Linked DNA regions of Homo sapiens: region 2 is linked to region 1. Evidence: fine-mapped expression QTL. A gene starts in region 1. The other region holds a variant in brackets. All regions are shown on one strand. Distances are from middle to middle.

Region 1 (16,105 bases):
TATCCAAACAGCAAATCCTACAAACTCAACCTTGAAAATATCTCCAGCATCTGACTACTCTTGAACACTTTCACTTCTAGTACTCCGGTCCTTGCCATCATCATCCCCCGCATAGTCAACTCCAATAGCCCAGCGCCTTCCGCATTCTGTCCATCCCCATACAGCCTATCCCCAATGCAGTAGCCAGCATCATTCTATTCTTATTCTGCCTCATTTTCTATTTGGTTATTGTCTCTTTCTTACTTACATTTAGCAGTTTTTTGTACGGCAGTCCTTCAGTGAAAATCCTTTAATACATCTCCAAGTCACCCAGAGTACAAGCCAACCTCCTAAGCTAAAGGTGGTACATAATTACCTTCCTTTTCTCTAATATCATCTCTTGCCACTCCCTTCATTTGTTCCTTGCTGTTCTTTGTCTATGACTGGCATAACCTGACCTGAGGGCCTTTGCCCCAGCTGTTTCCTCTGCTGGAATGCTCTCTCTCCAGAGATCCAGAACTCAACCCCTTGCTTTCTTCAGACCTTAACTCAAAATTTCACCTTCTCAGTGAGGTCTTTTTTGCACCCCTACATGTAATTCATAACCCCTTCCTACTCACATGCATACATACTTCCTATCCCCTTTTCCTGACCTGCTTTTTTCCTTTAGCATTTATAATTGTCAAATTCTATATTTTTTTCTTATTTACATTGATCTTTGTCTGTCTACCTCTTTAGAATATAAGCCCTGTATGGGCAGAGACTTTTGTTTGTTTTTGTTCCTTGCTGTATTCTCAGTACCTGGGACAGAGCCTGCCAAACAGCCACATAATAAATGCTCAGCGTATATTGGCTGAATGAATTAAGAAAACTAGAGGTGTAGTACACATCTGTGTAGAGCAGATTCTGACTATGACTGAAGTTAATTTTAATTTTAGATTACACTGTCAATAAAATTGAGATCCTTGATACCACATATATATGCATATGTGTATATATCTATGTATGTGTGCATGTAAGCTAGAAGGGGTTAGGAATTATATGTAGGGTTACAAAGAAGACCTCGCTGACAAGGTGATATTTTGAATCAAGGTCTGTAGAAAGCAAGGGGTTGAGTTCTGGTTCTATTGTGTGTTGTGTGTATGTGGTGTGTGTGTGTGTGTCTGTGTGTGTGTGAGAGAGAGAGAGAGAGAGAATTTGTGTGTATTTAGAAGGCATTGTGCCTTTTTTTGATCAAGGGGCTTTTCAGAGATGTTAATATGCCAATGTATGTATCAAATCCTAAGAAATGAATTTAGAAGTCAACTTTTTATTACCCAAGCTTATTCACCAAGTGAATACATTGTTCTCAAAGTACTAATTTTGGAGGGAAAACAACAGTGTGGGGGTTCTTCAAGAACTATGGCCCTGATACTTGTGAATCCCCTTTTTCCAAATTATTTGACTCTCTTGACTAAAACAGATATTTGAAATACTAGGCAAATCTGACTACAACAATTAAACATTGTCATGTTCTCTAGATAAGATAATTTTGCTTTATTTTCCAAGGAAGACTGTTATCCAACAATATGATAGATATGATAGGTTTGCTGAATGGGAATATGCAGGGTCCATCTAAAGAATACTTTTATGAAGTATTTAGGGTGACCCCAAACCAACTCTACATTGTCAAGCCATTGTGGGAATATTGTGGGAATATATGATATACAAAATTGGGCATAAATGATTTTTAAAATCCCATAAAGATGTTTATATCTATTTCTAGGGACTCACTCAATTACCTTGAGATATAAATTTACTAGCACTATTCTGAAAGAGTAATAGTGAGCCTTTTAACTTCAAAGTTGGTAAGTTAAACAAAGGAACATTAATAGCTAATGATTTATTCAAAATTAAGTACAGGCCGGGCACAGTGGCTCACATCTATAATCCCAGCACTTTCAGAGGCTGAGGTGGGCAGAACACCTGAAGTCAGGAATTCGAGACCTGCCTGACCAACGTGGAGAAACCGTGTCTCCACAAAAATACAAAATTAGCCAGGCGTGGTGGTGCACTCCTGTAATCCCAGCTACTCGGGAGGCTGAGGCAGAATTGCTTGAACCCGGGAGGCAGACGTTGCAGTGAGCCAAGATCGTGCCATTGCACTCCAGCCTGGGCAACAAGAGTGAAACTACTTCTCAAAAAAAAAAAAAAAAAGTAAAAGAAAAAACAGAAAAACATAATTAAGTACATTACATAGAAAATATAAAATTCTATATTTCATTTTTTAGCTTTTGGGGAACAGACTATCTTTCCTTTTTCTCTTTTCTCTTCTCTTCTTTGAATACTGATGAAGAAACACAAGTATTTCCCATCTAAATAAGTTCCCTGGGATGAACCTGTCTCAATGGTTTGATTAAAATCAGTTGGAGAAACATGTTTAGCTCTATTTACTAAAAGTATAGAAGAAGTCTGCTGAAGCAGTCATGTTCTAATTATCCTTCCACATTCCACTCTGGAGAAGTTTGCCTGGCTGGAGCAGTCAGGGTTTTCTAGATTCAAGCAAACAATTAATTTCCTTTCCCTCTGCTTTTCAAAGGAAAAACAGCTTCTTTTAAATAAATAAGCATGTAGGAAAAGAGAATGAAATTTTAAAATGCTACATAGTTTCTTCCTGGAAATACTTTTGTAGGGTACCAAACTCACTGAGGTAATTTCCAGCTCTCCTAATAATGACAAATATTCCTAATTATGGATAAATGTACACTAAATACTTTGATGTTGATAGTCTGCACTTTTGCAATATTTTCTGTCTGCAAATATCTTCTCTGCAAATCTCCTTCGTGCCTTACTGTAAAGCCATTATACCTAAACTGCTGCTGTGTCCAGAATTTCTCTACTTGAAAAAAAAACACATTCATTATGGTAGGGAAATGCTCATGATCAAATGCTCCTTTTCATAATTACCACATAGCTGTTTAATGATGACTGGCCCAGTGAGCTCTGAAATTCTGTATAAAGAGAAGGCATCCCCATTGCCAAAATGAACTGAAATCCATTTCTGAGTCCTGTAGGATAATTTTATATAACATTTACATTTTTTGCAAAAAATTTGAAGACATAATACTAGGCATATAGTAGATATTAATGAAGTTTACTGAATTGAATTATTGATCTGGTCATCACTTGATGTCAGTGGGGTTGCAGATAACTCCCTAGACCAAGTGTCCTGGTCTGTTTCGTGTTGCTGCAACAGAATACCTGAGACTGAGTAATCGGGTTTATTTAGGTCACAGTTCCACAGGCTGGGAAATTCAAGGGCCTGGCCCTGCCTTCCACTGAGGGCTTCTAGGCTGCATCACAACAGGGCAAAGAAGGTCAAAGGGGAAGTGGACACATGCAAAGAGACAAGGCCTGAGGAGCATCCTGGTTTTGTAAGAATCTCCCCTCTAGGGAACTTGTTTATTCCCATGAGAACTTTTCCAGTCTCCTCCAAGTGAGAATTCACTCACTACCTGGAGAACTGCACCAAGCCATTCATGAGGGATCCACCGTCAGCACCCAAACACCTCCTGCTAGGCCCCACTTCCCAACACCACCAAGTTGGGGATCAAATTTCAATACGAGTTTTGGAGGGAACAAACTCAAACCATACCACCAAGATATACACAGGGACTGCAAGTGATCAGACTCCACAAGGTGAATGTCATTAAAGCTGTGGTTGTTTCCACCCATCTAGTCAACTCTCAGATGGTAGGCAACATTTTCAGTCCTAGAATACTATTATTACAGATTCTGGCTCATGCATAAGGGATTACACAAAAAACTACAACCATGAAAGAAAGTCACCAAGGGGTTACATTTGGCTTAAGCAATTAAATGAATAGCAGAATAGCCAAGTTGTCATATAAAAATTGCCCAAATAGCCATTATAAGAATTTATGGAAGGGTCCCTTTTTTATTGAATATGCTTGTTTTAAAAGTGGGTTCTGGGAACCTTACCCTATCATCTAGTTTAAAGGAGCACCCCTGCATGCAGCCATGTGTGGTGAGCTAGGCAGAGGAAACAGTGTAGTCTATCATGGCACCATCTGTGATAGGTTGGGCAGAGGAAACAACGTGGTCTATCTGTTCACTTCTGAAAAGCAACAGATTCTGAAAGGCGGCAATTAGGATCCAAGAAGAAGCATCAGCAAACAATAAAGAACACTTTTTCTAAGTTTGTTATTTTTTCAATCCATCCTTCATTCACTAAGCATATACTATGTGTCAAATCTTGTTCTGGGCACTAGAGATAAAACACTGAAAAGTGAAAGCAAAGCTCTTGAGATTCTTTACTTTAGCAGGGGCTGAGGAGAATGAATAAGCAAACAAATGAATCCAAGCTGATTCAGATAGTGAAGTGTTTTAAAGACAATGAAATAAGGGGATCCAACAGAAAAGAACTCGCTGGGGCAGATTAGATTGGGTGGTCAGATGAAGCCTTCTGAAAAGTGATATTTCCGGAGGCACTTATGTGATATTAAGGAGTCTGCTATGCAAAGATCTGGTGCACAGGATTCCCAACAGAAAGAACAGCAAATATTACAAGTTAGATTTCTTCAAGAAACCCAAATAAGCAGGTCTACATGGCTAAAACACACTAGCTATGATCTACAGAAGCGTGGTATAAGATAACTAGTTAGGGACAATACTATATAGAACCTTCCAGGCTGTCTTAAGAATTACAAATTGTGTTTGAAGTGCAATGAAAAAAAAAACTCATTTGAGCGTGTTAAGAAAGGGTATGACACAACCTGATTGTTTTTATTTATTTTTTATTTTTATATTTTTTGAGACAGAGTCTCACTCAGTCGCCCAGGCTGGAGTGCCGTGGCGCCATCTCGGCTCACTGCAAACTCCGCCTCCCGGGTTCACGCCATGTTCCTGCCTCAACCTCCCGAGTAGCTGCGACTATAGGCGCCCGCCACCATGCCCGCCTAATTTTTTGTATGAGTAGAGACAGGGTTTCACTGTATTAGCCAGGATGGTCTCGATCTCCTGACCTCGTGATCCACCTGCCTTGGCCTCCCAAAGTACTGGGATTACAGGCGTGAGCCACCGCGCCCGGCCTCTGATTGTTTTTAAAAGATCCTTCAGCTCTTAGTGTGTCCGGAATTGGTGGGTTCTTGGTCTCACTGACTTCAAGAATGAAGCCACGGACCCTCACGGTGAGTGTTACAGCTCTTAAGGTAGCGCGTCTGGAGTTTGTTCCTTCTGATGTTCGGATGTGTTCGGAGTTTCTTCCTTCTGGGGGGTTCGTGGTCTTGCTGGCTCAGGAGTGAAGCTGCAGACCTTCGCGGTGAGTGTTACAGCTCTTAAGTCAGCGCGTCTGGAGTTGTTCGTTCCTCCGGGTGGGCTCGTGGTCTCGCTGGTTTCAGGAGTGAAGCTGCAGACCTTCGCGGTGAGTGTTACAGCTCATAAAATCAGCGTGGACCCAAAGAGTGAGCAAGTAGCAAGATTTATTGCAAAGAGCAAAAGAACAAAGCTTCCACAGTGTGGAAGCAGACCGGAGTGGATTACCACTGCTGGCTCCAGCAGCCTGCTTTTCTCCTCTTATCTGGCCCCACCCTCATCCTGCTGATTGGTAGAGCCGAGTGGTCTGTTTTGACAGGGCGCTGATTGGTGCGTTTACAATCCCTTAGCTAGACACAAAGGTTCTCCAAGGCCCCACCAGAGTAGCTAGATACAGAGTGTCAATTGGTGCATTCACAAACCCTGAGCTAGACACAGGGTGCTGATTGGTGTGTTTACAAACCTTGAGCTAGATACAGAGCGCCGATTGGTGTATTACAATCCCTGAGCTAGACATAAAGGTTCTCCACGTCCCCAGCAGACTCAGGAGCCCAGCTGGCTTCACCCAGTGGATCCCGTACTGGGGCTGCAGGTGGAGCTGCCTGCCAGTCCCGCGCCCTGCGCCTACACTCCTCAACCCCTGGGTGGTCGATGGGACTGGGTGCCGTGGAGCAGGGGGTGGCGCTCGTCGGGGAGGCTCCGGCCGCAGGGGAGCCCATGGAGGGGGTGGGAGGCTCAGGCATGGCAGGCTGCAGATCCCGAGCCCTGCCCCGCGGGAAGGCAGCTAAGGCCCGGTGAGAAATCGAGCGCAGCGCCGGTGGGCTGGCACTGCTGGGTGACCCAGTACACCCTCCGCAGCCGCTGGCCCGGGTGCTAAACCCCTCATTGCCCGGGGTCGGCAGGGCCTGCCGGCTGCTCCGAGTGCGGGGCCCGCCAAGCCCACGCCCACCCGGAACTCCAGCTGGCCCGCAAGCGCCGCGCGCAGCCCCGGTTCCCGCTCGCGCCTCCCCCTCCACACCTCCTTGCAAGCTGAGGGAGCCGGCTCTGGCCTTGGCCAGCCCAGAAAGGGGCTCCCACAGTGCAGCGGTGGGCTGAAGGGCTCCTCAAGTGCCGCCAAAGCGGGAGTCCAGGCAGAGGAGGCGCCCAGAGCGAGCGAGGGCTGTGAGGACTGCCGGCACGCTGTCACCTCTCATTAGGAGGGTGTTGTTCGGGGTTGTGGAGGATAGAAATGAGCAGACAGAATAGGGGCTTTTGTGGTTGCCCAGGTGAGAGATGACAATAGCTTGGACTAAGGTTATGGCAGTAGAGAGGGAGCAAAGTAGATACCTTGGAAATATATTTTGGAGGTGAAGAAAACATGACTAATTAATTGAGTGCGGGGATGAAAGAAAGCAACAAAACGAGGATGACTTCTAAATTTTTGGAATGAACAACAGAGTAGAACAATTTGAGGAGGAACAGGTTTGGAGGGGGTGGATATCCGGAGTTCCGCTTCTGAGATGCCTGTTAACCATGATAATAATAGTATCTACCTTGTAGGGTTGTTGTGAACAACGAATACGAAATATGAGGAGAATTTAGATCTGTACCTAGCATGTAGTAATTGTTCAATAAATACCAGCTACGACAATTATTCCTCAAGTGGAGATGTAAAGGTAGTGAAGGACATAAGAGTTCTGTGTGAGGCCAGGACAGGACTGAAGACATAAATCTGAAAGTTATATAGGATTCAACGCTGCTCAAATCATTTTTGGTGAAGAACTTTTATCTTTATCCACCGCGAATCAATACTGCAGTGGACTAGCCGTGTTTGTCTCTCCAAAATTCGTATGTTCGCATTCTAACCCTCAAGATGATGATATAAAGAGGTGGAACCCTTGGAAGGTGGTTAGGTCATGAGGGTGGAGCCCTCATGAATGGGACTAGTGTCCTTATAAAAGAGACCCCAGAGAGCTCCCTTGCTCACTTCCACCACGTGAAGACACAGCAAGGAGTCAGCAGTTCATGAGCTCGGAATTGGGCCCTCACCAAATAAGGTATCTGCCTACATCTTGATCTTGGACTTCCCAGTCTCCAGAACTGTAAGAAATCAGTTTCTGTTGTTTATAAGCCATCCAGTCTATGGTATTTTGTTATAGCAGCCTGGAAGACAAAGACAAATACTTCTGTGAAATCCAACAAAAATGAAGACACTTTGAAGAGCACTAGTACTCAAAGCCATGGGAGGCCCTGGAGGAGGCCCTGAGACATATTTAACCCAAGTACCCGTGAGTCTATGAGGATGGAGGCACAGGAGAGTTCAGTAGGCTGAAATAACACAACGCTTGCTTACATGAACACACAAGGAAGGGGAACTCACACAGATTTACAAGTAATCTGTTTTAATTAGGTGTAAGAAAAAAAAGCCCATTCACTCCTGCAGGAACTCCCTCCTCTTCCCACAGATGTGGTATCTGAAGAGCAAGACACTGCTTCTCCACTTCCTCCGCACAAACACTTTAGTCTAATCATTGGAGATGCAATCTAGCGCTCGGGTTGCATTAAGTATCCCAAGCTCCTTCCCTACCAAGCTGGGCTCCACTTGGGCACAGAACGATTATCAGACCTGGTAACTACCAAGCTGTCCCCTAAGGATGCTCTAGGCCCCAAGCATCAGCACCTCCGTTAATAATTCTCCACTCTTGCCTTGTCATCGGCTTTTCTCACTCAAAACTCTGCTCCAGCGAGTGGTCCGGGCGCCTGAGGCAGCTGGCATGGGCTAGGCCAGAGAGCACCTGCACTGATTCTTAGGAGAAAAGGTCCTCTTTCTGGGCGAGGAAGTCAATAAAGTAAAGGACGCTTCATAAAGTCCTTCGGGAAGCAAAACTTGCTTAACTTCACACTTCCTTGAACCCCCACGCAGGGAATGCTTCCTCCGGGACCCGGAGCAGGCAGGCTGCTGTGCCTGGCAGGCCGGCTCCTGGGTGCAAGGCTCCCGCGCAGCCCAGGACAGCAGCGCGCGGGCTACGGGCGAGTGGAGTTGCAGGGGCCCGGGCGGAGAGCCGCTGTCACCCAGGGAAGCTCTCGGGACTCCGGGCCTCCCGCGAAGCTCCGGACGGGCGTCACCGAAGCCGAGAGTCCCGGCCGAGCCCCTCCGCACGGTGGGCGCCGCGCCCAGGCGAGCGCGCGAGGTCGGGCGGGGCCGGGGGCCGCCCGGGGAGGGGGCGGGGCCGGGACTCTCGCGGCCGCGCGCAGGGGCTGGGAAGCTGCCCCTCCGGCCGCGCCGGGCGAGGGGCTGCGCCGGCCCGCGAGGCGCATGCGCGCTGCCGAGCGGCTCTCGCTCCCTCCCCGCCCACCGCTCCCTCCTCCCCCTCCCCCTCCTCTGCATCCTCGCCGCTCTCCCTCTCTCCTCGCCCGCTGGGTGCTGAAGTTGGGCGGATGGCAGCAAACCGGCTCCGCTAGAGGACCGAGCCGCCCAGCCCCGCTCCCCCGGACCCATCGGCGCGCTGCCCACACCTCCAGGCGACCGGGTAAGACGCTGCCTCCAAAACAAGCGGTGCTAAGTAAATGACATCAAAATGTCTGCTTTGCACCAATGGATGGATTTTTTTCAAGGTAGGGGGGAGGTGAAGGAAGGAGGGGGCGGAGAGCGCGACCGCCCATGCCCCGGCGGGGGCGGCTGCGCGGCGCTGGGGTCTCAGCTGTGGCCGCGGCGCCCTGAGCGGGAGCGGGGGCCGCGCCGCGGGTCCGGGAAGTTGAATCCCGCGTCGCTGCCTGGACGCGGTCCGCTCGCCGCCCTCAGCTGCTGCAGGGAACCGGGCGAGTGTCCTGCCCGCCGGGGAACGCTCGGCCAGGTCCCAGAGTTCCCGCGGAGAGCGGGGCGCCTGCTGGGGGCGGCCGGGAGGGCCGGGCCAGGGGCGCGGGAGACCCCGCGGGGACGCGAGGTGTTGCGGGTTTTGTGCGGTTGGTTGGGAACGAGGAGAATGTGCCATCAACAGTGTCCAATCGACTGATCACCTTGGGTGCTGTGTTTCCTCCCTTATCTCTCTTTACCTTTGGGAAAATGCACTGCTCAGGTGGGGAAGGTGTTCGAAGAAGAGGTTGCGAAAATGAATCCTTTGACCAGCAGTAAAATACCGGAGGGGTGTGTGTGTGTGTGTGTGTGTGTGTATGTGTATGTATGTATAGGGGGTGGGGGGTCTCTTTTGTTCCTTCCCCTCCCCTTAGTCAAAGGAAAGGGAGTCCTGGCGTGTGCGGCGCGGGGTGGATTCCACAGCCACCGAGGGGGCGAGGACGAGGAACGCCCACCAACCGCGAGTCGCTGCCCGGGTGGGCGCATCGGAGCCTCCTTTGCTGTAGGTGATGGTGGTCTTTCCGTGATCGATGGAATCATAGTTTAATCTCTGCCTCCCCGCCAGCCTCCCTGCTGTCCCTCATCGAGTGCTGCGGCAGAGGCTGGGTGCAGACACGGCCGCTTTCTCCTCTTCTCTCTGCCTCCCTGTCTCCCTGAATAAATGCCGGAGGACTAGGGGATGGCGGAGGGACAGAGCTGGACTCGGAAGCCGCGGGTGGGAGCTGCTCCTCGCGAGCCCGAGGCTGCTGGCACCTTGTCGCGGGCAGCCCGCGCCAGCCTCGGGAGTCCCTGGGCTCCGGGAGAGCGAGCCGGGGTCGCCTGGCCACAAAGATGCCCGCGCGCCCGCCCTGCGTACGGGACCCGCCCTGCGCCCTGAGCCCTGCGCCTCGCCCGGAGCCCGGGACGTCGGTTCACGTGGGAGAACCCCTGTCGCCCGGGGACGATTGACCCTGGCTCCTGGCATAACTCTCCTGACCTCCCCTGACCTTTCCATAAATGCTTCTTTCAAAAGATTCACTATAAGATTTGTCTGGAGAACTTCACACTCTTCAGAGTTATTTCTTTCTTTTCTTAAATTGTTTTACGGCGAGATTCTCTCCAGCGTGGGATGGCTTTCACAAATAATAAAGAGAAATCTTAGTTTGGTTCCCATCTAGAATAAGCAGTTCTGAGGCTGGGTGCCATCTGCATTTCCGGCGTTCATACATACTGGTTTTCCGGGTGATGAACCCTTCTGAAAATCATTTAATTGAAGACGTGAGAATTGATTTTTATTAGTGTAGTGGAAAATAATGCTTTCCTCCTCGATTCACAACTGCCAGACGCTGCGTGTACGAAATAATTTGCAAACCGTGAAACATTTAAAGTACATTGTACTTGTTTCCGAAGTCTTCTGTAGTGAGAGTATTATCCAAGAAATATGCATTATAGCACTCCTATCTAATGGAAGGGTGATTTAATACAAATGAATGAGAAGTTTGACCTCCTCCAGTTGTTACTGTTGTTAAGCCATTTCTTCTGTTAACATGAACTAAAACAGTAATTAGCACACTCATGGGAGACTGGATTTATTCACTAGTTTTTATAGTCTTTTGAAACCCGCACTTAGAGCCACCATAGGAGAGTAGTTTATTTAGTTTGAGGTAACAAGAAAAGAAGTGTTCGTTATTACAAAAAGATTGAGTGGTATTACTTATTAAATAAGATAAATCTCCATGGCAATGACACGTGATCTCAGAGCCAGGGGCACTCATCCTTCCTCCTGAAATTAGTCTGAACGATTAAGAAAACCGTCGAATTTACAGAACAAATAACATAAGGTGTCTGTTATGCTGATTGATTTCGACCCTTTTTGCTATAGTTCCGCAACTACTCCTTGGCGTTTAGTCCCCACGGAAGGGAATTAACAAGGAGAGTTAATTTACTATCCTGTTCATTCTAAGGCAAACAGCATTTCCTTCTCAAATAGGTATCTCTTTGGTTGTAGGGCTCTTCCTCTGAGGTACTTATTTATTTGAATTCATCATGTTTAAGGTCTAAGTTCCTTATTCCTGTGACCATTTTATACTTTTGCATAATAATAAATAATAATAATAATAAACCTTCCTTAACATTTCCTACCACGAGGGCCACGGTCTTTGAAGAAAAGGAGAAATATATATTCTTACCCGTTTGATCTTACTGTAACAGCCAAGTAAAAGTGAAAATTTTAAATCTGAATTGATCAAAATTCTGGTTGACTTGCAGAGTAAAGTCTAAGAAAGATTTTACCTTTTAATCTAAAGCCGTAGAGATAATGGCCTTTGTGTCAGAAGTCCGTTTGCTAAAATACATGGGCTTTCCTGGAAAAGGAAGGTAGGCATGGATGATGAGGTACGATGCCAAGAGGGCTGGGAGTCCATTCAACCACATTTCTGCTGAGAATCCTGTTTCTGATACTCTCCAACTCTGCTTACTTAACACTGAGAATACTGCACTACCAAAGAGGGCAAATCGAAGGACCGCTATATACCCAGAGGTTGAGAATAATGCTATGTGATGTTAAAAGCATTTTATTTCACCTGATTGGTATAGTTAGAGTGTAAGTGTGAATGCATTGTGGAGGCGTAAAATTATATGACATTTCCAAGGGAGTGTCAAGGGTCCTCAGACAAATATATTTTTATGGAAAACCTTAAAATAATCCTTTGCTATAGGTAGCCAATAGGTAGCCAAGACTTTCAGTGTGAGATTGATGGATACTCCCACCTTCCTTCTCTCCCTACCCACACTTATCTCTGAAAAAAAGACACTTTCCTAACTTCCAAAGAAATTCATTTAGACGATCATTCCTGCTATTGTGCCAGCACCTGGCACAGTATGTGGCAAAGGCAGGTGTAAAATAATTTTTCCTAAATTAATAAATTTTGCAGGGTCGACATGGCTCGCAAAAGTCTTCCAAGGTAAGAATTGCATTTTTAAAATCAGCACTTACACTGTTTACCAAGTACACTAGTTGGGCTCCTAAAACTCGTGTTTATGGTCCTACATCTTTGGAGGAAGCAATTTTCAGAATTGTCGTTTTGGGAATATATATGTGTTTAATACAACATTTATATTACTGATTTGTTTCCCAATTATAAAAGCTCTATATTTGCTTATCTTAGATCCCCTACGATACAAAATTACCTATAGGCAGATATGGATGTGAAGAGCATGAATTTTGGGTCAAGCTGGCTTTAGCTTGTATTGTGGCTCCTCCCTTTAAAAACTTTATTGCTGTAGGCAAGTTACTAATCTGTCCTGAGCCTCAGTTTCCTCAGACATACAAGAGGGATGAAGGCAGGATGCAAGCATAAATACAATGCAATGTATATAAAGTACTGAACATAGTGCTTGGCATGTACTGAGTGCTTATAATTATCTCAATACCTAAAGAACTGCTATTGAAAACACAGCATGGTTTACCACAAGTTTATTTGCTTTATATAAACGTACCATTGTTTTAAGAATTTGAATCATATTCTAGAACAGGGGTCCCCAACCCCTGAGCTGCAGACGGGTACCAGCCCATGACTTGTTGGGAAGCCAGCAGCACAGCAGGAGGTGAGTGGCTGGTAAGTGAGCATTACCTCCTGAGCTCCTCCTCCTGTCTGATCAGCGGCTGGCATTAGATTCTCATAGGAGCGTGACCCCTATTGTGAGCTGCGCATGCAAGGAATTGAGGTTGTGCACTCCTTATGAGAATCTAATGCCTGATGAGCTGACGTGGAACAGTTTCATTCCAGAACTATTCCCCCACCCCCACTGCCATCCGTGGAAAAATTGTCTTCCATGAAACCGGTCCCTGGTGCCAAAAAGGTTGGGATGGCTGTTTTAGAACTTCATATTTCTAAAAAAATTAACATTCCTTTGTTGCTGTTTCTCAAGAAATTAAAATTGATATTTTTAATGCGATTTAGTGATATAGTTCACCTTATGAATGTCTTTATTTAGCCATTCTTTTATCTTTGGATTTTGATCCTCATGCCTAAATTTTGTATGCGTATCTCTATTGCAGTTTCTCCTTTGGGCACGATGCTTAGAACAGCTAGTTCTTGCCAACATAATGCCATTCTTTAAAAAATCTTTGCTAACTTGATAGGTGAAAATAATATTTTTCAAACTTTTATTTCTTTGGCTACCAATAAGACTGATTACTTTTTGACATACTGATAAGCAGTTTTTGTCTTTGAGGATGGCTCGTTCAAGTCTTTAGCCTGTGTTTCCACTGCTGTTCTGGTACATTTTTCTTATTTGTTTGAGTGCTAATATTAATTTTTTAAAAGGCAGAAGCAAACAAGGAAAGGAAATGCTCAGTGACAAAGATCACTGTGGCTAAACCAGAAAAGCTGGATCAGCCAGGGCATTGGGGTTCATCATATACTGCTACACCCCTGAGTTTTCCAACCTTTACACTTCTTTTTAGAAGTCCGGAATCAGTAAACAATTTGCTCACAAACACCTTACTATGAGAAGCTTGTGTCTGAAGAGTTCCCAGATAGTCGTGGATTGTTTCTGCCAGTTGCCAATGTTATGGAAGAACTTCTGAGTTTTTCTGAGATAAAGGGGTTGAAAGGAAAGATGGGAGTACATAGAGATCATAGGGACATTCATTTGATTTCTCATCAGAATGAGTCAGTTAAGCTAAATTATAAAACCATGTCAGGTTAGAATCATACCTTACTTCAACTACTAAGCTCTAGGTGAAATTTACACATGTTAAAAGTAAGAATTTAATGTGTTACCTTAACGAGCTCTGTATCTGCAATGTTTCACATGATTCAGTGGTCTTGTAAGCTCCTGTTTTTGACTTTTTAAGTTCTATAACTTTTGACAAATTTGGTTTCAAAAGTTTAATTATCTAGCTTGGAAAATCTATAAAGTCCTTAGGTATTAAACTATCTAGAAAGTATAAATGTTTTTGTTTTGTTTTTTGAGGCAGGGTCTCACTCTGTCACCCAGGCTGGAGTGCAGTGGCTCAGTCATGGCTCACTGTAGCCTCAACCTCCCTGGGCTCAGGTGATCTTGCCACCTCAGGAGCTGGGACTACAGGTGTGTACCACGACGCCCAGCTAATTTTTGTATTATTTGTAGAGTCGGGGTTTTGCTTGTCTTGAACTCCTGGGCTCAAGCAATCCACCCACCTCAGCCTCCCAAAGTGCTGGATTACAGGCGTGAGCCACTGCGCCCAGCTGAAAGTGTAAAATTTTATAATCATCAGTGGTACCAGTTTATCAAATACAGTAAAACCTGAGTAATTCAGAATTTATAATGATGGGAGGTCCCTATAGGAGAAGCAATGACCTATGGTGGAAAATAAAATCTATTTCAAATAGAAATGGATTTGAATTTTTACTCTACTATTTATTAGATATGCAGGCTTTTTCATGAAATTATAGAAGTATTTTATACTTAGTATTCTAGCATGATTAATAAATATCTAAAATCACTGAATTTCTTAAGCTTTGTATGTGAGATTTTTAAAAATTCCCTGTGTCAGTAAATATAATTCTATTGTAGTCAATGATTGTGGTTCACAAAGCAAATATTTACTTCCTTATCTTGGGTCACAGGCTTTTCACAGTACAGTACTGCTGATTGGCTGTTGAAATACACAGGTTATAATTCAAGAGCCATGGCATTACAGTAAAACAGACACAACCTGGGGGAAATTATGACATAAATGGAATGAGCAGGTGAGTGTTTATTTCATTTTAAAAATTTTCTTGAATCTTCCCAATAATATAGTGAGTTAAATCCAGTGAAGTCTCTTGTGAAAGTTGTCACTTTCTCTATTTTCCAGTCTCTATGAAAGGTGGGAGCCTGTTATTTTGGTGTATTTATGATAAGTCATGTAATCTACAGATTTTATGAGTCAGTTTTGGCTCTTGGTAGACGACCCTATGTCCACGTCCTATTACCCTAAACTCTCCTATTTTTTCAGGATTTGATTAATCAAACTCAACAAATATTTGAAAGTTTGCTATTTGAAACACAGCAATCCATATTATTTAATTCACATGAAGTAAAAAAGCTTATGGAAAATTGCCCTTAAAAGAAGGAGACTTTAAAAGCAGAGAATGTAATTTGGTGGAAAGAGCCCAGGTTTTAGATTCAAATAACCAGGGATTTAGCCTTCACTTCTTTGAGCCTTAGTATCATTATCTGTAAAACTGAAGACAATTTAAAAATGTTAAAGGATTAAAAGAAATTATGTCTATAAAATCTTTCATATATTGGTACTCAGTATGGAAGTGTTAGGTATTGTATTAGACTTAATAAATCAAAATAGGTACAAGAAACATCATGTAAACAATAAGGGCTTGAAGGGGTTTTAATTTCGTGCCAGTATTTGTCTTAACTAATTGGTCCTTATTAATGTTTAGGTTGTTCTCCATGTATTTCGTGTGTTATCCTTTCCTGACTAGTTTGTTTCACCAACCTGCTTACAAACATATTTGAGCACCCACTATGTGCTAGGCTGTGTGATATTTTTGGATACAAAGATTAATTAAACGTGGCCCCTTTCCACAAGGAGTTCACATATAAGCTTCTTCAAGTTATTTTTCTTTTATCTAGTGAGTACTGGTCATTCTAAGCTTTGAAGTCATAGCTAAATACAACATGGGAGTAATAGGCAATGATTTCCTTAGGGTTTAGCAATAGACCAATTGATCTCAAAATTTAGGAGCCTCTACAACTAATGTTCAAGCAAGCTGCTAAGCAGAGACTCAGAGATAAGGGGAAGAAAAGCAGGAAGTGGCTCTGTTGGTGGATGATTTAACAACCTCCACCATAGTATCAGAACAACAACAGACTGGAGGCTTAACCCTCTTTGTGAACCGACCTCAACACCCAATTCCTTCTCATTGAAATAAAGAAAATGTGTACATACATCTGTACTATGCCTTTTCCCCTCTCACTTGTAGGCTACCCTGCGTAATCATTGTAATGTAAGAT
Region 2 (16,105 bases), 98 kb before region 1:
CAAAATTCTTTCAGTAAACAAACTGGACGTTCTGAAAAGAGTTGTGCCCTTACAAATTACATGTTCAGGGAAAATGAAGAGAGGGAGATTCTTTCAGGGAAAGAATTTGTTTTTCTTCATGCTTTTGTTGGTTTGATTGTTTTGATAAAGTACAAGACATATTTCACCTGTCAGCAATTTTCCTGGGGCACGGAAGCAGTCAGGTAGAGATATAAGACCATCAAATTCCCCTAACAAACCAGTTACAAATGTGTGCTTGAGACAGATTTGTGCTTTGGGAAACACGGAACAAACACATTTTCTTCTACTCCTCCTGCTAAGTACAACTATATAGTACAACTACTCCTCCTGCTAAGTACAACTAAGTAAAACTGGACATTATGTTTAAAGCAAACACAAGAAGACTCTCAAAGATGTAGAGAGGAAGATGGACAGGACAAGAATCTCAGGATCCAAGAGATGACAGAGTTGTGAGCTCTGTAGATTTTCTTTCAGCTTCATATATCCCAGATGTAGAGCTGATGAAAAGCGATCTGGAAACACAAACAGGTGCAAAGAAAAAACACACTGGAAAAATCTCTGCTTTCTCTAACCACAGGACCAGGAAAAGGGCAGCCTAGCAAGACAGAAAATTTTTGGACAATGATGAAAAAAATATTTTGCATCCCCCCTATGCTGGCAAAGACCAAGTAAAAAGCTGAGATGTCCGTCCTTAAGAAGCTATGAAGAGGGGCCTCAACACCTTTGCCGGATCAGTGCCAGAGAAAACCAAGCAGTGAGCCAGGACTTTCTACCCTGCTGGCCGGAGATAAGGCCCTCTCCATGGTGTCACTACAGACCACGTGGGAAGCCTAAACTTCCATTCCCACTGGGGATATTGAGGCTCCTCCTTGCTAGGGTAGCATCAGAAGAGGCCTCATGGAAAGTAAGAACTATAACCATTGTCCAGTGGTAACTAGACTGCCCCTACCACGTGTCAGCAGAGACCACATGGGAAGGTGGAATATCCATTCCTATCCATTCCCCCATTTAATAGTAATGAGGAGCACCCCCGACTCTGGGGAAAATCCAAAGGAAATCAATGTGACAAAGAACTGGTTCTTTGAAAAGATCAATAAAATTGGCAACTCTCTAGCAAATCTGGCAAAAAAAAGAAAAAGAAGACACAAATGATCAATACCTGGAATGAAACAGGAAGCATCACTACAGATTATGGAGACATCAGAAGAATAGGAAGGAGACAGTACAAACAAGTAGACACACATACATTTCACATCTTAGACAAGATTCCTCAAAAATATTAGCACAATTCACCCAATAATTTAAAAATTTATATGGAAAGGCAAAGAAACTAGAATAGCTAAAATGATTTTTCAAAGAATTAGGAGCTTTCCATGCTTAATAAATATGTTTTCAGTATTCACTGTGTCTCTGGCACTATTCTAGTACTAAAGTTATAACTTTAATAATATATGGAAAAATGTTTGAAGTTTACACTCTACTGAAGGAAATAATCAGTGAAACGTGAACATGTAAAGCACAGGTGGCAATAAGTTCTATGACCTGAAGAAGGAAAGGGTAAAGAAAACAAATAAGTTCTGTGAAGATGAATAAAGCAGATGAGGGGATAGAGAAGGAAGTCTTCCTATATAAGATGATCAGGAAAGGTCTCACTGAGAAAGGCTGAGCAAAGACTGAAAGATCACAAAGTAATCAGCTGCCTGGGTGTCTAGGGAAGATATGTTTTGGAGAAGGGGAGCTCCCTAGCAGTGATGGGAGGCTAGAGTGTGCTGGATATAGGAGCATGCAAGGAAACCAGTGTTGGTATAGTGGAGAGAATGAGGAAGAAAGGAGAAGATATTGTCAGGGCGTGCTCAGAGATCTCGCCATACCTTGTAGGTGACTGTGAGAACTTTGGATTTTACTCTGATGGAGATGGGAAGCCATTTGAGAGTTTCATGCTGAGGATCTGAGTGACCCGATTTTGGTGTAAAAAAAAAAGGAGCATTATGTAGTGATTAGAATGTAAGACAATAAGGGCAAATTCTTTTTTTTTTTTTTTTTGAGACACAGTCTCCCACTGTCACCAAGCTGGAGTGCAGTGGCACGATCTCAGCTCACTGTAACCTCCGCCTCTCAGGTTCAAGTGATTCTCCTGCTCCGCCTCCCGAATAGCTGAGATTACAGGTGGGCACCACCATGCCCAGCTAATTTTTGGTATTTTTGTGTTTTTAGTAGAGACGGTTTCACTATGTTGGCCAGGCTGGTCTCAAACGCCTGACCTCGTGACCAACTCGCCTCGGTCTCCCAAAGAGGAAAATTCAAAATTATTTTCTTACGGGATAAATCCAATAATAAAGAGATTACAAATCTTAACCTTTTTAACTATATTTTTTCTGACTTCAGATGCTAAGACTGATACTATTTTTTCTCCTGGTTAATAAGTACTCAAAACTCATTAATAAGATAGTATTAATTAACCAAAACCCTAAGGATTAACGGTTTTAAGTGTTGTGTGCTAACCAAAAAAAAAAAAAAAACGCAACTGGAGAATATAATAAATTAAATGAACTTTAATTAGAATATAATATGTTAAAGTTTGCAAATTAATCAAAATTGATAAAGGACACACTAAGTACATTTTAACATAGATGAGTAAAATGCAAAATATGATTTAATATCAGTATATTACTTAACTTGTGTAAATTATAATAATCTGACTTGTTACTTTTTAGTGGAAGTGTCTTCCAGATACTTCTACAAGCAACTTATATATGTACAGGTACATATACAAAATGAGTACATGTACTCATTTTGTAAGAGTAAGGGTACTCTTACTCTTATAAGTAAGAGTAAGATGAGTATGAGTACTCTTTTCATAATCATAAAATGAGTATGTGTACTCATTTTATAATTTTAAGTTGCTTGTGGAAGTATCTGGAAGGCAGCATAGTGGGTTGAGATGAACTTATGTAGTATATATCATGACCCCATTCTTTAAATGTGTTAAACAGGTAGGCAAAACATGCACTCTATCCCAACTGTAGGCTTCATTCTGACCCTGCTCTGGGGATGTTATAGTTCTAACATGTTTGATTCTGTATGCAAGCTGTCACTGAAGAGCTTCACTAAAAGTCGTTAACTAAAGTCAAAAGGAATGCAGTTGTATCATCTCTTATAAAAGATTATTGGAGATGTGATGATAATTTTAGCTTTATTTATCGTCAACTTTTCATCAATATATGTATTTGTTTCAGACTTATCAGAGTTACAAAATCGGATGCTAGACTGAGCAATTCCAAACTACCCAGGAGGTGGAAGGTCCAGTTTCTTTCTCCTTTTCTTTCTTTCTTCCTTTATTCCTTCCTTCCTTCCTTCTTTCTTTCTTTCTTTCTTTTTTCTTTTTCTTTCTTCCTTTCTTCCTCTCTCTCTCCCTCTCTCTCTCTCTCTCTCCCTCCCTTCCTTCCTTTTCTTTTCCCTCCCTCCCTCCCTCCCTTCCTTCCTTCCTTTTCTTTCTTCCCTCCCTTCCTCCCTCCTTCCCTCCCTCCCTCCTTCCTTTCTTTCTTTCCCTCTCTCTCTCTCTCTTTCTTTTTTTTGAGACAGAGTTTTGCTCTCATTGCCCAGGCTGGAGTGCAATGGCACAATCTCAGCTCACCACAACCTCTGCCTCCCAGGTTCAAGTGATCCTCCTACCTCAGCCTCCCTAGTAGCTGGCACTACAGGCATGCACCACCATGCCCAGCTAATTTTTTGTATTTTTAGTAGAGACGGGGTTCCTTTATGTTGGTCAGGATGGTCTCAAACTCCTGACCTCAGGTGATCCACCCACCTCAGCCTCCCAAAGTGCTGGGATTACAGGCGTGAGCCACTGCGCCCAGCCAGGAGCTCCAGTTTCTTTGCATTTCATCACAAATGTTTGTTGTTTTTCAAATTTGTACTGTGTGTTACATTATCCATTTTTTCTCAAGAATCCTTTTCTATTTAGTTAACATCCATTCTGACAGTCCAGTTGGGATTCTCGAATCACTTATTCAAACCAAGAAAAGAATCCTAAAATGCAGATATTCATGTCTTCTAAAATCGGGTTTATTAGCCTTTTACCTAAGTGGTAACTGCCATTTCAATTTCTTTCTTCACAACACCACATGTGCAAGTTTTACTTTCTGTTACCATGATTTTCTCAGAACTCACTATCTTCTAGAAGTTTTACCAACCAAACAACTCTCAGACACTTGTAACTGACCCCTTTGTCTTAGTACCAAAATCTAAAGATGTAGGTATACAGTTTGTGTTCATGTATAAAGGTTCTGATAAAGGTATAAAATATCAAGATATTCTACATCATAAAACCATTATATTGAAGAGTAATATAGACAAATAAAATATGATAAATGCATATTTGGGTACACTTTAGTTGGTCCTGAAGTTTTCTCTTGGCTTAGGAGAGTAAAATATATTCTCCATAATGTGTAGCCTCATAAAACTATTAAGCCATCTTGATTCAAACAAAAATTGCAATTGTGCTAATTTAATTTGATTATTGAAGCATATTACTTTCACATTTCTCTTTATATTTACAAGAATACCTACAAGTTGATAAGTTTGAAGCCATCTTGAAGATCTTGATCTTTTCAAAGTCTTGTCATAAGAAATTGTGCCCCCCGCCAAAAAAAAACAAGTCAACTAACAAAAAACAAATTAAGAATGCTTTTTTTCCTTCCTATCAGTGATGGTATAACGTTTTATCGAATATTATTTCCTGAAAATAGGTAAATTGTTAAGTGGTTATACAACATTTTCATTTTCAGAAAAAACTGAGGAATAAATTTGAAAATCTCTCTTCACTATCAAATCGCAAAATCACAATTGTGTTGTTTTAATCTTTTTTTTTTTTTTCCGAGACAGAGTCTTTCTCTGTCACCCAGTCTGGAGTGCAGTTACACAATCTTGGCCTCACTGCAACCTCGGTCTCCCGGTTTCAAGCAATTCTCCTGCCTCAGCCTCTCGAGTAGCTGGAATTACAGGCGCCCACCACCACATCTGGCTGATTTTTGTGTTTTGAGTAGAGATGAGGTTTCACCATGTTGGCCAGGCTGGTCTCGAACTCCTGACCTCAGGTGATCCACCCACCTCGGCCTCCCAAAGTGCCGGGATTACAGGTGTGAGCCACCGCACCACGACTGTTTTAATCTTAACAAAAGTTAACTGCTGTGCTGTCATCACATATGTTCTCTACAAAATTTGCAGAAGCATGCATTGTACTGTATTGCATTGCATTGCATTGTATTGTATTGTATTGTATTGTATTGTATTGTATTGTATTGTATTGTATTGTCTAACAGTAATTTTTCCTATTAATTGTTTTCCTCATTTTTTTCTGTTATAAATTGTGGGAACAGGAGAGATTGTGAAATTTTAAGTGTTTTTTGTATAAATGATGATAGATGTGAATAAATTCATACACAATAAGTTTAGAAGTCATAGGTACCTATTACTTCACATCATTCCTTAGGTGTAGGTTTCTTTTGAGGTTCTCAGCTATTATATTTCTTAAAGAAGAAATAAATTCTTGTTTAAGAATAAATAACCTATTTTTAGTTTTAAAGTCATCAATTTATGGTTTTTTCATTTTCTCTTATTTTGTCTAATGAATAGAAAATATAATTGTAGTATATTTTGAAATTTGGTTTTTATTTTCTTCATTAAAAACCTTTTTTTCTGAGAATGTCCAATATAATATGGCCATTAAGAAGCAAATTCATTCCTAGGTGTTCACAACTAACAGTTAAACAAATCGGTATTCATAACGACAACTCCATTGCTGCTATCAAGTGATTTTCATTGTTATGAAACCATATGATCTCAGAATTTTAGAAAACCTCAGAGAACAGAGACCCCAGCTCTCCTGAGAGCCCCAGCATAGCCCATCAACATCAACAATTGGTAGTCACCAAGCTCTGTCAATGACAGGGCCTCATTGAATGGCAGAAGCAAAAAATCTATGATACTGCTGACTACTTCATAGATGTTTTAACATAATTTGAAACTGAAGTGCTCTGTTGTGTGTATACTGCCTTACTAGCAAATATATCTTAAAAAAAGAAAAATTTTATGGAATTATGCCCAGCTTTGCAACTGCTTTCCATCACATTTTCTATCTATAACACAGCCACTGCTGTGTTAGATCTCTCATTCTATATTCTAACTCAAGAAGCAGCAAGTATATCTGCTTTTCTTAAAAACTTTTGCATTGACTATAACATGCAATCTCAAAATTTACCATTTACTATTTCATCGTTTTGAAAGGCAATAGCATCAGGGAAAAAGAAGAAAACTAGTTCTTATATTTTTCTGGGTTTTCAAAAATCAAGTTTGCTTCTTCACTACACTCCCACCATGCACCCTTCTAGTTCTTTCTAAATTATCCCTGAGCCTTTGCCTGAGGGTCTTTACTTCCTGTAACTTCCCTAATTTTCCTTACTAGTGATTAATTTAGACGGATATAGCCAGTTATTTCTTTGCTCACACTCAGGCACCTAACCACTGATTTTTGCCAACAAGAACAAGAGACAAAGGGTAATGAAATGCATTCTTGAGCTCACCTGTGAAGAGTTCCCTCTCCTGTACAGAAGGAAAACAGAGTATATCCTGTATTTAAACATGAGCTAAAATAAACTGTAGTTACAGTTTGCCCTTCTCTGCCCATCCCTCAGTTTAGCAATATGTACAGAACACGCGTTGTGCGTAGAACGAAGTGTGAACATCACCTCGACTGGCAGGCAGGCAACTAACTGCAGTGTTTTAGCGCCGTCTGGTGTTGGCGCCTAGAAACGCAGCTGGCATAATTTATACCACATTTAGCATGTGACAGGTACTGATCTTTCTGCGATTTTCAAGGAATTCTCTGTTGTAATCACCAAACGCAACTGAATGTGAAAACATATATATTAATTGTTGAAAGAAAGCAAAGTCTCACAATAGCCTTTTACCCTCTGCATCATTTTATTTCTATTCAATGTCCCTATTATTTATCTGAGGAAAAGATTTTGAACAAAAACAGTATACAGCATACTCTTTCCAAAAATATACTAATTAAGGAAATATAGAGAGTACCCTCAATTTGTTTAAAATTTCTTTTACATTTCAGGGTGTTTAGGGGAATGTTAACCTTAAACAACAAAGAGATTAAAGTGATCAGATTTGCTTCATTCATTTTTTTAAAAAAATATTTTTCTATGGTGCAACTCTTATTTCACAGATAAGAAAATTACACTCAGAAAATTAGCTTTAAAATAAAAGTAGTTTGGTTTGTCTTTCACATGATTTTAAGTGTCTGCTGAGCATTTATATACCATGAAAAGGGATAAGAAGAAATAGCCAAAACTAAGTTAATGCTAGAAGAACGAAGCAGTCTGAACTTACATAAGAGCAAAGTAAACATCTCACAGAGCAGTGAGGGTCCATTTAGCAAATGAGTTTTTCCAGTGAACTAAGGAGTAGTCTTATAAACCTCTA[A/G]AAGTGAATCATTTGTCCACCCTTCTCATGTATCTTTGGACCATATCCATGTCAAAATTAAAGTTGTACACATGGAGGAAGATACAAATTACAAGCAAACCACTTTCTCCTGAAACATGTTAAAACATTTTATGCCCTCCATGATGTAAAAACTACCCAAGCCAACATGCTACAGAAGGAAAATAATTAAAGGCATTGTCAAGAATCTAATTGTTAATGAATTTGAGAAATATGATCAATTTTAATATCCCTAGTCATTATATCCTATTTCACAAGCTCGACAACTTTCATTACCATGTAAGATAGGCATAATAATGATAAAATACTGACTACTGTGCTAGAGAAGATCATTCTTAACTTTCTGTAATGAGCAGTTTGAATTTAAATTGAATTTTTTTTTAAATTCCAAGGTTAGAAAACTAACACTGCTTAAATTGAAAGGTAAAATGTCACATTTGTTTAGCTTTTAATCAAGTAAAGCGCAAAGAAATTATAACCAATTCTTTCTTTATTTAAAACAATGTAAGGCATGGTTACTTTTAAGACGTAACCATTTTCTTAAAGTAATGACACCTTATATTAAGTTCCAACTCCAGATGGTACTTGGATATGGGAATCCTTATACATAATCATGGCAGAAGGGGGCAAGGCCCTTGGAGCCATGTGCAAGATACTGTCCTATGTTCTGAGTGCCCTCTCGCCCTTGCAACACAATGGCATTTTCCTTTCTGCTTGCTGGTGCCTGCTGACACCCACTTCTGAAGTCAAGAGTTGGTGAATCTAGTGGTCTGTTCTTTTCAGTAAGCTCAGAGCATAGTGTCCCCTTCCTGACTCAGCCCACCATGATCTTGGCCATATTCTCAGTGTGGCTTCTGTCTAGGCCCTGAACCTTTGTTTCTGTCCTAAGGTCACACTGCCCCTTTCTGTAGAAGCCCAATAATAGGTCTGAAATTTCCAAACTCATCTTCTTTCCCTACCCCCCTGGGAATTTCTAAATGCCTTCTGGGCCACATGGGAGCTTAGACAGAACATGCATGGAGGAGCTCAACTTCTGCTCTTTTTCTGTCTGAATGCACTATCACCACTTCTCAATTACTATGGCTGCACTATTGCACACTGCGAAGTGATCTCCCCCCGCAAATCCCTAAATGTGAAACTAAGTATAGCCCTTTAATATCAGCTGTATGGATTTCCTTCACTCTTCTGTTTTTCCCATGAAAGATGTCTACATTCTCTTCCTGAGGGATAACAACTTCCCGTACATCAGAACCTTCTCCTACCTCAGAATCATTCACACACACACACACACACACACACACACACACAGACACCCCAGCCTATTCTTCACTAGCACTAAAAATAGTGGAAAGAGTGCAAGAGGAGGAATCAGACTACCAGGAAGAGAAAAACATCCAGAGTTAATTCAAAAATGTCTATTCAAATAAAAGTATTTCCTTGACACTCCTACTTATATGTGTTAGATAAGACTCTCCAGATAAAGGGAGTTATAATGAACACTTTCCCTTTTCCATTATCTGATTTCTTTTATTGTTTAATTTCTTGTAAATGTATTCAAAATCCCACCTACAGTTATATACATATGAGTGAAAATACAAGGCCATTACTTAGGCCCTTTTCAAACAAATACTCTCTAAACAGTTGGTTCAACCTCCATTTTTTGTTGGCATACTGAACCCAGCTAGAATATGTCTAGCATATTCTTTATGTCCAAAATAAAGGACTGATCATGTTTAGTGATAGAACATTGCATTTTTACTTATTTGGAATTCTGTTTTACTTCAAAGTCTTCTTCATTCATTACCAGATAACATTAGTCACTAGTATTTACTGGGCATCTAGATACTTTACTTGGATATACTAAAAGTGGCTTTTTTCACTACATCAATTTCATGAACTATGCCGTATCTCAGGAGGTATATTTAGATGGTAAAGTACAGTTCACTTCCATGTTACCATACTACCTCCTGCATTATTCCAGTTTAGAAGGAAACAGATGGTAAAAAGAAACTTCAAACTTCAAGAGGCTTCAGTTGGCTGGTCTTGTGGTCAAATACGAGGTCTAAGTTGCCCCTTATAGTATTCACCTCTACCTCCAACAAAAATCAACAAGACATACGTTAGGAGAAACAAGACATGGTGTCCTATTTTGTGCTCAAATCTATAGCCGATGTTGCAAGAAGCAGGATCATTTTACTTTTCATCAGTTACCTAAGGCCATAAGTGAAAGTCTGGCTTAACTGGCACTATATTTTTGTCAAGTTTAGTGTCATCTATAGATTGGCTCTCTGTGGTCCTTGGACCTGCAGCCTTTAATCGGGCTGTACCTGGGTAACTAGATTACTTTTTGTCTACTAGGTAGTTTCTCTGGCTCTAGTCCAATTCCCCTCCAATACATACTCAAACAACTTCCAGAGTGATTTCTCTAAAATAAAAATATGGTCATGACAGATCAAATTCCTTTAGCTTTCAAAATAGAGTTAAAAACTCTCATATTGGTTCATAAGGCTCTTCATTTCCAAGTCTTCATTTTCAGTTACACTTGAATTTGGTCATCGCTCTCATCCTTGCTATTCAAAGTCCCTGGAACAGCAGAATCTAGATCTCTGAACTAGAATCTACATTTTAACAAATCCTTAAGTCATTCTTAGGCACATTAAAGTTTGAAAAGCACTGGTATATAAAATATTAATATATTAACTATTTGCATGTGTTTCAGACCAATAAAAAACTCAAAGGAGTACTGTTTTAAAAGTGGTTCATTTACTGGCAGCAAAATACATATACATCTGTAAATTTTTCTTTGTCCATAAAATCTCAAAACATTAGCAAGACATTGATCATGAAAATGAACTTCACTAACCTGTCATATTTTAGAAAGGAATTTGAGATGTATATTCCCAGGGATCTTGCTTTTTCAAAGAACCACGTGGTAGGTGCCAGAAATGCACTCACGCCTGCAGTTTAAGAGGGGCAGTATCAAGGGCTCTCGTCCCCAGCATATTGCAAAACCCTACTAAACGCAAACTCCTACTGTTCTTAAACCAATCAGGGATTTGTGGGAAAGGCTCTGATGAGGATATGAACATTCCTCTAATATAAGCAAGACCATATTAATCTCAAACCTGAAAACAGAATCTACACCTGCAAAAATTATTTCACTTCTGCCTATTTCCAAAACATAATTGAGTAAAGCCCTATTTTTATTATTATCTTAATATTTTACTTGTATAGGTTTTTGGGATAATTTTTGACATTTATGTTGTTGAATTTAAAACAAATCTGTGTATTTAGGACTAATTTATTTTAGCTCATGGTACTTTTTTGGTTGAAAGATAGATAACGTTGGTTGAAAGATAGATGGAAAGTCCTGGCTGCGAGTTGTTCAGGTTCTTGGCTTGTTGAACGAAAAATTAAACAAAATGCACAAACAAAGCAACAAAGAGCGAAGCAAGGAAAGCACAGATTTATTGAAGCAAAAGTACACTCTACAGAGTGGGAATGGGCTACAGCAAGCAGTTCAAGGGCCCTGATTGCACTGTTCTTTGGGGTTTTTATTAGACTAAAATAATTTGGTAACACCCTTAGGTACCTTTTAGAGGCCTCCAATTGGTTACACCCTATGCAAATAAAGGCTTGGTCCATGACCGATCAGAGGCTGAAGTGAAGGCTTGGCCCAGACCAATCAGAGGCATTTCCTGTTTCTGACATGGGGGGAAGGGGTTTTGTAGAGGGAAGGGCCTCTGACCTCTTGTCACTTGGGCATCGAGAGGTAGGGTTTTCCTCTCAGTCCAATTCCAAGAAGTCAGCTGCAGGTTTGCCTTAGGCTCCCTGTCTCCAGACCCCATTCTCCTACCTCAATAACATCCTAGAAATCTAAAAAAATAGTTTGATAAGTGAGTAATATATAAATAAAAGCCAAGTGCATATGCCTAACTTGTTACAATTTGCTATTTATGAAATCATTAAAATGCATATTATAAAAATGTCCAGCATTTTAAATTAGCTAGGAAGAATATTAATTTTTGCTTGTACTTTTCTTAATATTTTTATTTCATAAATTTCTATTACTAAACTCAACATAAAAAGTATGAAAGTCAGATGTTTTACTACATATTTTCCTACATATTATGTTTTGAAATCTCAAAAATCAAATAAAATCACATTCTCTTGGGTTCTTTTCCTTTCAATTTATCATCATATATAAACAGGATTAAAAATTACTCTTTTATAACTTCTAAACATTTATTCTCTAAATAACCTAGAGAGTAAATAAAATGTCATAAGAAATCTTTACACATTAGGAAATTGGTCCAACACCTCATAAGTACTTACTTGGCACATGGTATTCTCTCAAGAAAGCATGAAAAAAGAGATTTTAATTGAAATTTAACAGATAAAATATTTGTGTTGATCATATTAGCATACATCATCTGAAAAAGTAGTGTTGTAGACATACATTTTTATTATTAAAATGTATTTTAAGTCTAGGCACGGTGCCTCACACCTGTAATCCCAGCACTTTGAGAGGCCAAGGTGAGCGATTCCCTTGATCTCAGGAGTACGAGACCAGCCTGGGCAACATATCAAAACTCCGTCTCTACAAAAAAGACAAAATTTATCCCAGGATGGTGGTGTATGGCACATGCCTGTAGTCCCAGCTACACAGAAGGCTGAGGTGGAAGGACCATTGCTTGAGCCCGGGAGGCAGAAGCGGAGGTTGCAGTGAGGTGAAATCATAAAACTGCACTCCGCCCTGTCTCAAAAGAAAAAGGTATTTTAAACGTTTTGTCTTCTTTTTAAATAGCTTATTTGTCCTTTAAATGGATTTGAAACCATATATATATATATATATATATATATATATATATATATATATATAAATGCCTTAGATAAATTTATATTATAATCTCACCTACAGCTTAGTAATTTTGATGTATTTCTTGTTTAGTTTAAACACCTCTTCTTTTAATATCTTTCAGTAATTCTTTTTATCGAAAAGGTAATAGCAGACATTCAGAACTAAGAAAATGTATACCATGAACATGCTCTCACCAAAAAAAAAACTGAAAAAAAATGAGATTAATTTGCCTATATATTAATAGAAACTTCTTTAGCCATCTGGGGTTTACTTTTGTGGGATAAGACTAAGACAAGCTAAGTTTTATTATTTTTATAAGAAATATTTTGTATTCTCTTTTTTTTCCTGCTCAAATGCCCTTCTGCTTAATTGGAGGTTCCCAAACTTCCTCGGTTCGTGGCACCCTTAAATAATTTAATATTACTTAATAACCACGCTTAAACTATTCAATAACCACAATTACACATTAATGAAAGCATATGTGCCTACTGATCACAGCCATAACTTCTCAAATCTTGAAATCAGATTGAACACCTCCAGCCTCATTTCTTGTTACACATCGATTTTCATATAGGATGTGCTTTTTTATCAAAACACCCATCAAAAATCCAGTTTCGCAAAAACGTGACATCATAGAAAGAAATGAAGTACAATCAAATTTATGAACTACCTTAAGCTAATTTACACATATACAAAAGATGTCCTGTATTCCTCTGTTTCTCTCAAAAACTGAAAATATCCCATTGTGTCAGTTTATGGTAATACCCCCAGACATCTTGGCACACAGTTTGGGAACCACAAGATTCTTTTCTTAATCTTGAAATTGTATAATACTATCAGGCTACATGAAAGTATTGGTCTCTTATAATTAAATATGTTTGCTTATAAGGATCCATTTTTATTTGTAATATTTGTGGTTTAAACGAATCCTTTAAGTCCTTTAAAATTTTTTTGTTATATTTTTCCTATAAAAAATATACCCAATACCTATAAGTTGAATCCCTATTCTCTGTCTCCCAAGTCTTACATCTCCCTGCTCCCTTCTGTCAATTGGTTTTTATTTTTCTCCACATTCTGAAAAAGATTCTGAAGTTATGATTCTTCAGTATAGTCTATTTTTTTTTTTTTCCAGGCAGAATCCTGCTCTGTTGCCTAGGCTGGAGTACAGTGGTGCAATCTCTGCTCACTGCAACCTCCACCTCCTGGATTCAAGCAATTCTTCTGCCTCAGCCTCCCAAGTAGCTGGGACTACAGGCATGTGCCACAACGCTCAGCTAATTTTTGTATTTTTAGTAGAGACGGGGTTTCACCGTGTTGGCCAGGCTGATCTTGAACTCCTGACCTCAGGTGATCCGCCCACCTCGGCCTCCCAAAGTGCTGGGATTACAGGCATGAGCCACCACACCCAGACTCCATATTAGTCTTTTAACTTTCTCCAGTTTCAGTTCTGCCTGTCACTGCTTGAGGTGTGTATTGGTCTACTAGGGCTGTATCGTATTAAAATGCTGGGGGGACCTAAACAACAGAAGTTTATTTTCTCACAGTTCTGGAGGCTGAAGTCCAAGATCAAACTGCTGGCAGGGTTGGTTTCTGGTGCAGCCTCTCTCCTCGGCTTGTAGACACCACCTTCTCTCTGTGTCCTCCCATGGCCTCTCTTCTGTGTGTGCTCACTCCTGGTATCTCTTCCTATTCTTACAAGGACACCAGTCTTTTGGATTAGGATCCACCCTATGACCTCATTCAAGGGGGCCTTTATTACCTCCTTCAAGACACTATCCCTAAATACAGTCATATCTGAGGTTAGAGCCTCAACATATGAACTTTGGGGTCACACAATTCCGTGCATGACAAGGTGTATATGGAAACTCTGTAAGTGTATTAATTTAAACACATCTTTTTCACTTCACTCACTTTTCTGTTAATTTTGTATATGCCTCTTAGCTCCTCTTTCATCTTTTTGTTTTATCTTGTCTTTTGTTTCTCATGCCACATAGTTTATATTTTTCTGAATTTAGTTGATAGAAAAAAGGCCATCTTCTAAATGTTTTCTACAGGATATCCCTTCTCTGCTATAATCTTTATCTTTTACGTTACAGGATGTCTCCATCTGACCCACTCTGTTGGTTTTCCTGCTGCTCTCATCTGTTGATTTATCTTTCTGTAAGTAGAAAACTACTGTGACACCGTTTCTAGTTTTTGTTTATAAACAACATCAAAGTTCTGTGAATTATCCATGGCTGCCTTCACTGTATAGCTGGTTGCTTTCAGAGTCCTCTTTCTTTGGGTGGAAGCCTCATTGATGTGCATTGACTGACTCTAATGAAACTTTCAGCACTTTGCAATCTCTTATTGAGTGTCGAACTGCAAGACTGAGAAGGGACTTAGCAGTTTCCATTACTTGGTCATCTGATTATGATAATTGGAGTTTATTTCTGAAGTTAAAAATAGTCCACTTATCTTTCTTCCCAAAAAAGTATATATGGAAGAAAAAAAACCCAGAATGCACCACTTTTGTGAGTTTTCTAAGGCTATCCCATTATATCTATTGATTTTATATTGAATGTAAAGTAATTTATTCTAAGCACTTCTGTCAATAGCTACCTTGTGTCAATGGAAACTGAAGTTCCAGAATCTGTTCATCACACAAGTATTAATGGAGGAATAAGGGTAATGAATACCTATGGCTCGCTGCTTAAGAGAAACAGTTTCTCTTGTTCAGGAATATAAAAGCTTTGTCTGTAGTCTACCTGAGCAATAGATACAGATGTTTGGATGACCTAGGAACTTGCCAGTGGCTTCAGATCCACAGACTTTAAGATTGATCATATAATTATACTCTCTGTTTAATATTAAAAAGATGAATATTAAATTGTCCCTATGTCAGTATAAAAATCATTAACTTACAAGCGCTCCCAGCCTTCCTTTGCCCTACCCTCATACAGGATCTTCTAAGTTGTCCCATTTGGTTCTCTTTTCTACCCACTCTGCTTTATGGAGGACCTTTCTTATTAGACCTGGTGTTTTGGCTTTTGTGAGAAAGAATTGGAGGAAGGCAAGAGGGTATGAGGAAAATGTGAGATTCACAAAGGTTACAGAAAAATTGTGGCCTGGAGAATGATGGGCATGGGAGCAGCTTTGGGGTGAGTCAGGTGGACGGAAAAGGAAATTCAGGGAGGTTTTAAGGCCTGTTGAGGACCAAGTGTTCCCATTATTGTATGATTTTGAAATTACTCTTGCTTTCCAGGACGTTTCCCTTTCAACAGTGGGGTTGAGTCACCCAGGTCAGCATTTCCAAGTGTTATATTTGATGGTGGTAATGGGAGTTAAAGCCAAGGTTTGAAGCCAAGATTTAAAGCCAAGGTGTCATACCCAGCTGGATTTCAGATTTAAATTACCAGCCTCAATCTGAGCTGCTTATGTATTTGCACCAAGTCTTCCTAAATTCTGAAGAAAGGAAGAAAGGGAAAATCTGGGCCCCGCATGAGCAGGGATGGTTTTGGGCCACCACCAGACAATAAAAGGGCGTGTGTGGAGACCACATTAAAGTTGGAATTTCAGTTTAGGGGAATGCATGGTTTGGTCCTGGATGTTCCAGGCAGAAAACCAAATTTGTGCAATGTTATCCCAGTTAACTCAATTGAGAAAATGTTTTAAGCTTCCTTGGAAATGCCAGGCATTTGACTCTTAAGTGGACACCAAATTTCTTACAAA

The links.
Region 2: its variant is fine-mapped to the expression of RGS17 in thyroid (GTEx, PIP above 0.99).

Annotation. Positions count from the first base shown.
Region 1 is chr6:153,123,820-153,139,924 of GRCh38, reverse strand. It overlaps RGS17 (regulator of G protein signaling 17), which reads left to right and starts at 8,643. Exons shown (of 5, transcript NM_012419.5): 1 at 8,643-8,801. RefSeq lists a silencer at 8,712-8,761.
Region 2 is chr6:153,221,934-153,238,038 of GRCh38, reverse strand. No RefSeq gene overlaps it. Among named protein-coding and RNA genes, the nearest start is that of RGS17, 99 kb to the right of the region's middle. The variant A/G (reference allele first, on the strand shown) is at 7,516.